Linked DNA regions of Homo sapiens: region 1 is linked to region 2. Evidence: fine-mapped expression QTL. A gene starts in region 2. The other region holds a variant in brackets. All regions are shown on one strand. Distances are between the middles of the regions. Region 1 holds the start of ERO1A (endoplasmic reticulum oxidoreductase 1 alpha). Region 2 holds the start of GNPNAT1 (glucosamine-phosphate N-acetyltransferase 1).

Region 1 (5,373 bases), 95 kb before region 2:
TTCTTCCGCCTAACATCGAAATCTGAGATCAGCCCACAAACGTCTTAGCCAGAAAGGCTGGCGAAATGCACGCAGCACAGGTACTGGGTACACAAGTTCCTGGTCAAGAGAGAAGTGAGAAAGATCCAGGTTCTGTGAAAATAGCAAATACTGGCAGGGCATTATACACTGTGCACACTCTCCCCGGGCAGATAAGACCAACAAAGATGCATAAACCCACTCAACCGCGTGCACCCAACCCCTCTCCTGGTCCGAGGCACCGGAGGGCGCGGCGACGTCCAGGCTGCCGTGGAGGCCCGGTCCACGCCAAGCCAGACTCAGTCCCGGCCACCGGGCAGCAGCACCGGAGTCTCATTCCCGGTGGGAAGAGATGCAAGGACGCACCCCCAGCCGCTCACCCGCCAGGGCGTGCGGGACAGTGCACGCCGCGGAGGGCGCCGGGACCCTCAGCACCAACGCGCACATCGCTCACCTGGCAGAAGCACCTCTGTGCCGCTGTCTCCGGGGGCTGCTCCTCTCCGTGGCCCGAGCTGAGCAGCCACACGGCGCCCAGGAGGCCAAACAAGAATCCCCAGCCGCGGCCCATTGCAGCTCCGGCAGCTTGTCGCCCCACGCTTGGGAGGCCAGTCCGCACGCTCGGTCGCGGGCCGTGCGCCCTCAGATGAAGCCCGTGCGGGCCGGCCCCAGCGGCGCCCCACCTCCGGGCCGCCTCCCAGGCCCGCCTCGGCCCTCCTGCCTCTCAGCGATCGCCACCTCGCGACCCAGCCTGTGGACGTGCCGCGGCGCCCGCGCCGGCAGCCCGGGGCCTCGGACCGGTTCCTTCCCGCCGCGTGAGGCTGACGCACCGACCAGCTTCCCGGCTCGGCCCCGCCCGGTCCGCTGCGCCCGCGCCCGTCCCCGCCCCCGGCTCCCTGACGCCCCCGGCCTGGAGACGCAACCCGACGCGCACAACCCCAGACCCTGCGCGGGAGTCGGGGGTCCTTCCAGTTCCCAGAGCGAGAGCGAAAGCCGGAGGGGCCTGTGTTTTCCTGCGGGGTTGGGGGGCGGGGGGTGCCCGCCCCGCGCCGCCCCGCCCAGCCCCAGCCCGCTCACTCCCGGCCAATCCTTCCGTATCTCAATGCGAGACAATCAAATCGTACGAATTACGTGTCCACCGTGTTCCCGGCGGAGTCTTAAAGCTGAAAGGGATATTAGAGAGCATCTAGACCAGGGCAGCATATGTCATTTATATTTTTAGTAGCCACAGCAAAAGAGTAAAAATAACAGGTACATTTTATTTTTAAAATATTTTTATTTAACCCCGAATGTGCAAAATATTATTTCAAAATATAACCAACATTAAATTTATTCATAAGATATTTGACTTTTTTTGTCTTTGAAATCCAGTGTGTATTCGATGCGAACTAGACCCATTTCATAGTCAAATGTGGCTGGCTAGTGCCCACTGTATTAGACAGCGAGGGTGGAAGCCACCCGCTCATATCATAGGAAGAAACAGGCCTAGAGAAGTGAGGTAAGGTGAGCAAGGATTGGAGGTCCTCTGATACCCAGTCCTGGTCTTTTAACATTCAGAGTTGGGACTAGTCTATCCGCTTTTTTTTTTTCCAGACAGGGTCTCCCTGGGTCACCCAGGCTGGCCTGCAATGATGCGATCGCAGCTCACTGCAACCTCGAACTCCTGGGCTCAAGCGATCCTCCCACCTAAGCCTCCTGAGTAGCATGAACTACAGGCGTGCGCCACCACGCCTGGCTAATTTTATTTTTAGTAGAAACGAGGTTTCACCATGTTGCCCAGGCTGGTCTCAAACTCCTCAAGAGCGATTCTCCCGCCTCAGCCTCCCAAAGTGCTGGGATTACTTTTTTTTTTTTTTTCGAGGCGGAGTCTCGCTCTGTCGCCCAGGCTGGAGTGCAGTGGCGTCATCTTGGCTTACTGCAATCTCTGCCTCCCAGGTTCAAGAGATTCTCCTGCCTGAGCTTCCCCAGTAGCTGGGATTACAGGCGTAAGCCACCACACACTCGGCTAATTTTTGTATTTTCAGTAGAGAAGGGGTTTTGCCATGTTGGCCAGGCTGGTCTCTAGCTCTGAGCTCAGGTGACCCACCCATCTCAGCCTCCCAAAGTGCTAGAATTGCAGACATGAGCCACCGCACCTGGCCTTACTTTTTGTTTTTTGTTTGTTTGTTTGTTTGTTGTTTTAAGAAGACTTTTTTTTGAGACACTCTCACTTCCTCACCCAGGCTGGAGTGCAGT[G/C]GCGCAATCTCGGGTCACTGCAACCTCCGCTTCCCGGGTTTAAGTGATTCTTACGCCTCAGCTACCCGAGTAGCTGGGATTACAGGCCTGCGCCACCATACCCAGCTAACTTTTGTATTTTTAGTAGACATGTGGTTTCACCATGTTGGCCAGGCTGGTCTCGAACTCCTGACCTTAAGTGATCTGCCTGCCTCTGCCTCCCAAAGTGCTGGGATTACAGGTGTGAGCCACTTCACCAAGCCTAAGAAGGTAGTTTCTAGGTGAAACTGGCAGCTTTCCGACATCTTGCATGCACATTAAAAGTTGAAATAGTTCAAATGACTTAAACTCATGTATTTTACTGCAAACCCTAGAGCTCTGCCTATCACTGCCAAGTAGACATGTAGTAAAAGTCAACAACCCATCTGAGATCCTGATGGACCTGAGAAGCTCTAATTCTAGTATCTACAACATGTCACATGTACATATTAATACAATCTCCCTCCTAACCTGAAAGCTTTTTTTTTTTTTTTTCTTTTTCTTTTTTTTTTTTTTTTTGAGATAGATTCTCACTCTGTCGCCAGGCTGGAGTGCAGTGGCGCAATCTTGGCTCACTGCAAATCCAGCTCCTGGGTTCAAGTGATTCTCCTGCCTCAGCCTCCTGAGCAGCTGGGACTACAGGCGCGTGCCACTACGCCCAGCTAAGTTGTTTGCATTTTTAGTAGAGACAGGGTTTCACCATGTTAGCCAGGATGGTCTCAACCTCCTGACCTCGTGATTCGCCTGCCTTGGACTCCCAAAGTGCTGAGATTACAGGCGTGAGCCACCGCACCTGGCCAAAAGCTCTTTTTCATATTCCTATATACAGGCCCCAGTTATCCTTTTTAGGGCCAGACCCAGGTCATGTTCTCCCTGTCTTAAGTCGTCTTCCTGGTTTCCTCCTAACCCAGTTCCAGTCTCTCAATGATTTCAATTCAGTAAACTTACTCTGTGACAAGCTGAGCTTGACATTTGGGATACAAAGATGTATAAGGTCCAGTTCCTACACTTGGAGAGACATCCATGGAACTTAGTATGTACTTTTTAAAAAATATTTAATTGACAAATAATAATTGTGTATATTTATAGGATACAATGGGATGTTTTGATCTATGCATACATTGTAGAAAGATTAAATAAAGCTTATTAACAGATACATTGCCTCACCAACTTTTCATTTTTCATTGATGAGAACATTAAAAAATTATTCTTTTAGCAATTTTGCAATTCTTATTAACTGTGGTCACCATGCAGTGCATTAGATCACTAAAACTTATTCCTGCAGTCTAACTGAAACTTTGCACTTTGACCAACATCTCCCCTTTCCCCATCCTCCCTGCCCACCGGCCTCTGGTGACTACCTTTCTACTGTTTCTATGAGATAAACTTTTTTAGATTCCACATGTAAGTGAGATTATGTGGTAATTGTTTTCTTGTGCCTGGCTTATTTCACTTGGTATCATGGCCTCTAGGTTAATCCATATTGTCACAAATTACAGAATTTCCTTTTTTTTTTTTTTTTTGAGACGGAGTCTCGCTCTGTCACCCAGCCTGGAGTGCAGTGGCACGATCTCGCTCACTGCAAGCTCCGCCTCCCGGGTTCACGCCATTCTCCTGCCTCAGCCTCCCAAGTAGCTGGGACTACAGGCGCGCCCGCCACCACTCCCGGCTAATTTTTTTGTATTTTTAGTAGACACGGGATTTCACCATGTTAGCCAGGATGGTCTCGATCTCCTGACCTCGTGATCCGCCCGCCTCGGCCTCCCAAAGTACTGGGAATAATTTCCTTCTTTATGGCTGTATAGTAGGCATATATATACAAGATTCTCTTTATCCATTCATCTGTCGATGAACACTTAGGTTGTTCCTATATCTTGGCTATTGTAAATAATGCAGAAATGAACATGGGAGTATAAGAAACAAATCAATGTTATGAAAATAGTCTGATTTTTAAAAAGCAGCAAAGGTTCTGAACAGTTATTTTTCAAAAAAAGACATACAAATAGCCAACAGGTATAGGAAAAAAATGCTTAATATCTCTAATCATCAGGGAAATGCAAATTAAAGACACAATGAGATGTCACCTTACACCTGTTAGAATGGCTATTGCCAAAATGATGAATGATAACAGGTGCTGGAAAGGATGTGGAAAAATGGAAACACTTGTACACTGTTGGTGGGAATGTAAATTAGTACAGCCATTTTGAAAAATAGTATGGAGGTTCCTCAAAAAACTAAAAATAGGCCGGGCACGGTGGCTCACACCTGTAATCCCAGCACTTTGGGAGGCCGAGGCAGGCAGATCATGAGGCCAGGAGATGGAGACCATCCTGGCTAACACGGTGAAACCCCGTCCCTACTAAAAATACAAAAATTAGCTGGGCGTGGCAGCACGTGCCTGTAGTCCCAGCTACTCTGGAGGCTAAGGCAGGAGAATTGCTTGCACCTGGAAGACAGAGGTTACAGTGAACCGAGATCGCGCCACTGCACTCCAGCCTGGGCAACAGAGCGAGACTCCATCTCACAAAACAAAGCAGACAAAAAAAAAACACACACACAACTAAAAATAGAATTACCATATGATCCAGCAATCCCACTTCTGGGTGTATATACAAAGGTATTAAAATTGGCGTGTCAGACTGGGCATGGTGGCTCACGCCTGACCCAGCACTTTGGGAAGCTGAGGCGGGCAGATCATTTGAGGTCAGGAGTTCAAGACCAGCCGGACCAACATGGTGAAACCCCGTCTACACTAAAAATACAAAAAATTAGCCAGGCATGGTGGTGTGTGCCTGTAGTCTCAGCTACACGGGAGGCTGAGGTGAGAGAATTTCTAGAACCTGGGAGGCGGAGGTTGCAGTGAGCTGAGATCATGCCATTGTACTCCAGCCTGGGTGACAGAGCGAGACTCTGTCTTAAAAATAAAAATAAAATTTGTATGTCAAAGAAATATCTGCACTCCCATGTTCATTTCAGCATTAGTATATAATCTTTTATGATATTTTCTACTTCATATTTCTTCACTGAATTGTAACATCTTTAAACTTCTTGAGCAGGGATTGTGTTTCAAATGTCCCTGAGACTCCCAGAGATCCTTAACAAGGA
Region 2 (5,373 bases):
CACTCTGTCCTCAAACCGTAAAATTCTGCTGGTGCCCAACTAAGGTACTGGGCAAAGTGAAGCAAGATATGACTTGAAACCTGGTTCCAAGGGGGTTTAGAACATAATTAAATAAGTAATTTTATATAAATAATCTTTTAGCATCTTCAGGTGCCCAGATATTGCAAAACTAGGAAATTTCTGCGAATAAAATTGCACAGTTGTGTGAAGCGGAATCTCATCATATCATTAGGTTCTTTAAAGTTTTTAGATGAACTTTAAACACTAATCCTCCTTAAGTATTCCTCAGAACCTTTTCTGATTAACTGCTAAATTAGCAGGCGTTTAGAAGACCCGTTTAAGCCTAACCCTAGCCCAATAATGCCTAGTGAATGAATAACGAATAAGACTTACCTGTAGGTCACATTTCAGAAAATCCAGAAGGACAAAAAAAAAAAAAAAAAAAAAAATTCCCAAACTGCCACAATATCGCGGAAAGCATACACCAAATTCATTTTTACTAGTCATCACATCAGTTGAATATTTTTTCACTCAATTGAATATTTTTTAAACAAAACTTCAACTATTTGGCGTCTGAGCCTCTGTATCAGGTTGGAATACGAATGGGGAGAGAGGCTGCTGCTAGAAGCAACCAACGGAGAGCAACAAGTAATAGACACCGGAGATGAAGATTTTAAAAGTCGATCTACAAATTTTAAAAAATACAATCTAAGGCCAAATCTAAACCAGCCTATGTATTTCTCAAGAGCTCCTGGGGAACCTTCTAAGTACAGGTGAATGGGGGAGGGGCGGACTTCGGATTCCTTTATATTCATTTTATAACAATTTCGATAACAAGAATCCATTCTGAATCTATTCCGTTAAAGATTTTTAACACACCTGGCCATATTTATTAAATTGTGTAACTGCATGAATGTTCAAAAGTATTTTCTGATAGTTTGACCTTTACAATCTAGGCGTTATTCCCAGTCTACCGATGAGGAAGCTGGAGCACCTGGAACTCCCAAGACTTGCCCCTTAGGTAACACAGCAAGTAAGTGACTTGGGGCTAGAATCCTCGTTTTCGCATCTTGAGCTCGATTACCATCCTCAACAGACCCCAATCTTTACATCATCATACCATACAGCTAGCGCTCTCTCCCCTATTTAGCAAATCCTGCCTAAATTAATTTCTTAAGATCCATTCTAGGATTCGTTCATGAGGGATTATCCTAACAAAACGAATCCTATAATCGCCCGTTCAATTTTGTATGAAAATTTTAAATTAGTTTGGCTTACATAAACATCAGCTCCCGCAACAGAAATCACAGTACAGTACTCGGTATTTCTAGGGGTAGGAGCCTAGGAAAAAGAGACAAAGAATGTCCCTCTGTACCCTGGGGAAAGCGCCGACCTACTCGGTGCGGAGGTGGTCTTCGGAGCAGCTGCCTCAATGGCTCCGACCACCGTGGGATGCGCCCGGGAATGGGAGAAGAGAAGGGGCCTGGGACGTTCGTGCCCATTCAAAACCGATGGCTGCAGAGAGCGCGACCAACTGTCTCATTTCCCACGCCAAAGTCTGGGGAGCGAAGTTCCGACCCCAGTCCCAGTTCCAGCCCTGCCAGGCCAAGACCAGCGTATGGCCGGACCGCTGGCCATCATCCTTAACCTCTGCTCCAGGCGCGCGTGCGTTCAACTTCCTGGGAACCGCGCTCCACACCATGTGCACCCAGCTGGCGAGGATTAACGCCCAGCTCCTCCACACAACACCCCCGGGGGCCTGGCCGGGGCACCAGACACACCTGTTAGATAAACCTGAGGGCAGGCCCGCCCCAGCCCCCAGGACACACGGTCCTGCTCTCGCGCCCCGGCCCCGGTCCCTCCTCACCCGTAGAGGCCCTGCGGTCGGCGCTCCTAGCCAGGCGCGTCGGACTCTCCCCCACCAGTGTGCACAGCACCGGATCCGGATCCGGCTTCAGCGCCAGCCCCACCTCCTCCTCCACCGCCCGCGCCACAGTTGGGAACCGCGGCCCAGACGTGGCAGCGCCAACGCCTCCACCTCGCCTCTGCCCCCTCACGCAGGGCCGCGCGCAGGCGAGCGGAGGCGGAGGCCAAGGCGCCACCCGCCCAGGCCCGGAGAGCGAGGGGCGGGGCCCGGAGAGCGGGGGCGGGACCAGGAGGGCGAGGGGCGGGGCTCGGAGAGCGGGGGCGGGACCAGGAGGGCGAGGGGCGGGGCCTGAGGCTCGAGTCGCGGCGCCTGGGGCGGTGGCCGCCGGACCAAAGCTGGCCTCTCCCGGCTCCTCCTCCTCGCTCCCCAAGGCCTTTCCCACCGCGTCATTGTCTCGGTTTATCTGCAGATACGTCTACCTAGCAGTCAGCCCAGCAGCGTAAGTGGTGACCAGTGTGGGCCTCTTTGATCCTGAGACCGAAGGCTCGGCCACTGGCCCTCTCCATTTGTTCCTTGTTGCCCTCCCTTCATGATTCAATCCATTAATTAGGACTTTTCCTACCAGCTGGCAGTTCAGAGCTCCGCATCCCCAGGCCTCTGAGTCACAGTTCCTGCCTTCATGAAACTAGGAGTTGGGGCCACTGCATTCTACTCCTTCGGGACTATTGTTTCATTTCTCAGTCCCTCAAACCCTTTATTGGATGAACATGGGGTTAGGACAGCGGTTCTCCACTGCAACAGTTTTGCCTCCCAGGAGACATTTGGCAATGTATGAATCATTTTCAGCCTCTCATCTGGGGTGAGATGTCATTGGAATCTACAGATGGTGGAGGGCACAGGTGAGTAGAGGCCGGGAATACTGCTTCACGCCTTACAGTGCGCAGGACAGCGCCGCACAACAAAGAATTACCTGGCCTGAAATGTCTGGAGTGCTGAGGTTTAGAAACCTTTCGTTAGGAGAAGAAAAGTGACTTTTTTCAGAGCCCCATTTCTGAAGTGTCTTACCTAAGTAGCACTTTGTCCCTATTTTAACAGATGAGGAAACAGAGGTTCAGAGATGTTACATAATTTACAAAAGTCTCATAGCTAGTAGCTCCCCTTCCTTGCCTTGTACCATAATTTTCAATTTATTGAAATCGCAAAGTATTTTATTCTTAAGCAATAGTATTCAAAGAACCCCATAGATCATATACCAGAAATCATATTTTTTGCTCATTTGTGAGATTTAAATTTCAGTTAACTCCTTTACTGATTTATGCTTTCTCAGAACTTCAAACATCAGTGAGTTGATGGCATCCATATCTCTGTTTTTATCTCTGTTTTTACACCCATACATACAAAAGAATATATAGGGCATGAGCAGAATGTGGTGGTATGCATCCGTAGTCCCAGCTACTCCAGAGGCTGAGGCAGGAGGATCACTTGAGCCCACAAGGTTGAATCCAGCCTGGACAATAGAGCAAGACCCTGTCTCTAAAAAAAAAAAAAAAAAAAAAAAGAATATGTAAGGCATAAATAAAATAAACACTCATGGCTGGGCGTAGTGGCTCACACCTGTAATTCCAACATTTTGGGAGGCCTAAGCAAGTGGATCTCTTGAGCCCAGGAGTTTGAGACCAGTCTGTGCAACATGGTAAAAACCTGTCTCTACAAAAAAAAATACTGAAAATTAGGCAGGCATGGTGGCATGTGCCTGTAGTCCCATCTACTCAGGAGGCTGAGGTAGGAGGATAACCTGAGCCCGGGAGGCAGAGGCTGCTGTGAGCCATGATTGCAAGACTGCACTCCAGTCTGGGCCACAGAGCAAGACCCTGTCTCAAAACAAACAAAAATTTAAAAAAATGCTTATGTACACACCACTAATCTTAAGCATATGGCCCTCCCCGTTTTTCTTATCAGACTTCTGGTCAAATGTTTTCAGTGAGTTTATCCTGTACAACAAACTGCTGTATGTTTTATAAATTAGCAAAAAGTGAAACATAAGCAATTCTAAAATCACAGAACACAAGGCTTGTAAGAGGTACCCCCAGAGATCTCATACTTTCCACATATACTCCTCCTTACCCACATTGGGCCATAAGAACCCAATTTCTCCTTAATAGACAAGGTCGATTACTCTGGCCAGTACAGTTAACCCCTTTCTTTGCCTGTAGGTTCACTTGGCAATGAGGAGCCCAAGATAACCAGGAGACAGTCTCAACTTCTGGTTTAATGGAACCATTGGTATGTCCTTTGGTTGATTTTTATTTATTTTTCTAGATTCTTAGAAGAAATGCTGCATTCACCATTATTCTTTTTTTTTTTTTTTTTTTTTTTTTTTTTTTGAGAGGGAGTCTTACTCTGTAGCCCAGGCTGGAGTGCAGTGGTGTGATCTCAGCTCACTGCAACCTCCACCTCCTGGGTTCCAATTAAGCAATTCTCCTGCCTCAGCCTCTTGAGTAGCTGGAATTACAGGTGCGCACTACCACACCCAGCTAATTTTTGTATTTTTAGTAGAGATGGGGTTTCACCATGTTGGCCAGGCTGGTCTTGAACTCCTGACCTTGTGATCCACCCACCTGGGCCTCCCAAAGTGCTAAGATTACAGGTGTGAGCCACCGCGTCTGACCAACAACAATATTCTCATTGGCACAAATAAGGCTATTACGTGGATAAACATAGATGTCAGTGATTGAGTTGAGAAGTGATTCAGGAACGTTGGCCTGAATGAGAAGTTTAAGAATACCTTGGCCGGGTACCATGGTTAACACCTGTAATCCCAGCACTTTGGGAGGCCAAGGCGGGCAGATCACGAGGTCAGGAGTTCAAGACCAGCCTGGCCAACATAGTGAAACTCTGTCTCTCAGAAAAAATACAAAAATTAGCTGGTGTGCTGGCACATGCCTGTAGTCCCAGCTACTCGGGAGGCTGAGACAGGAGAATCACTTGAAACCTGGGAGGCAGAGATTGCAGTGAGCCGAGATTGTGCCATTGCACTCCAGCCTGGGCAACAGCGAGACTCCATCCCCCCCCAAAAAAGAATACCTTAGCCAATTTATTTCATTTATATTTTCCTCTTAATGTTTGCACAGGAATTAGATATAACAATCCATGTCTAATTAAGTATAGAAGAGTTGTTTCACTAGGTATTACAAGTTCCAAGTGATAAGATATTATAATTTTAAATTAGCCACATTGTTTCTTTCTTAGTGGTATATAAATTAATGGCGTGTCATACAATGGATGTGTCTAAGATTGGATGAAATATGGTACAGGCCAGGCACGGTGGCTCACGCCTGTACCATTCCAGCACTTTGGGAGGCTGAGGTGGGTGGATCATGAGGTCAAGAGATCGAGACCATCCTGGCCAACATGGTAAAATCCTGTCTCTACTAAAAATGCAAAAATTAGCTGGGCGTAGTGGCACACGCCTGTAGTCCCAGCTACTCAGGAGGCTGAGGCAGGAG

Evidence for each region. PIP is the estimated chance that this variant, and not a neighbour inherited with it, causes the effect.
Region 1: its variant is fine-mapped to the expression of GNPNAT1 in whole blood (INTERVAL, PIP 0.96).

Annotation. Positions count from the first base shown.
Region 1 is chr14:52,694,896-52,700,268 of GRCh38, forward strand. ERO1A (endoplasmic reticulum oxidoreductase 1 alpha) reads right to left here and starts at 663. Exons shown (of 16, transcript NM_014584.3): 1 at 473-663. The coding sequence starts at 586. RefSeq lists enhancers at 188-689, 295-344 and a silencer at 595-1,134. The variant G/C (reference allele first, on the strand shown) is at 2,251.
Region 2 is chr14:52,789,561-52,794,933 of GRCh38, forward strand. GNPNAT1 (glucosamine-phosphate N-acetyltransferase 1) reads right to left here and starts at 2,047. Exons shown (of 6, transcript NM_198066.4): 1 at 1,868-2,047. LOC105370500 (a long non-coding RNA gene) reads left to right here and starts at 2,228. Exons shown (of 3, transcript XR_943867.3): 1 at 2,228-2,766. RefSeq lists enhancers at 1,274-1,363, 1,444-1,533, 1,641-2,154, 2,155-2,669 and silencers at 1,844-1,923, 2,024-2,243.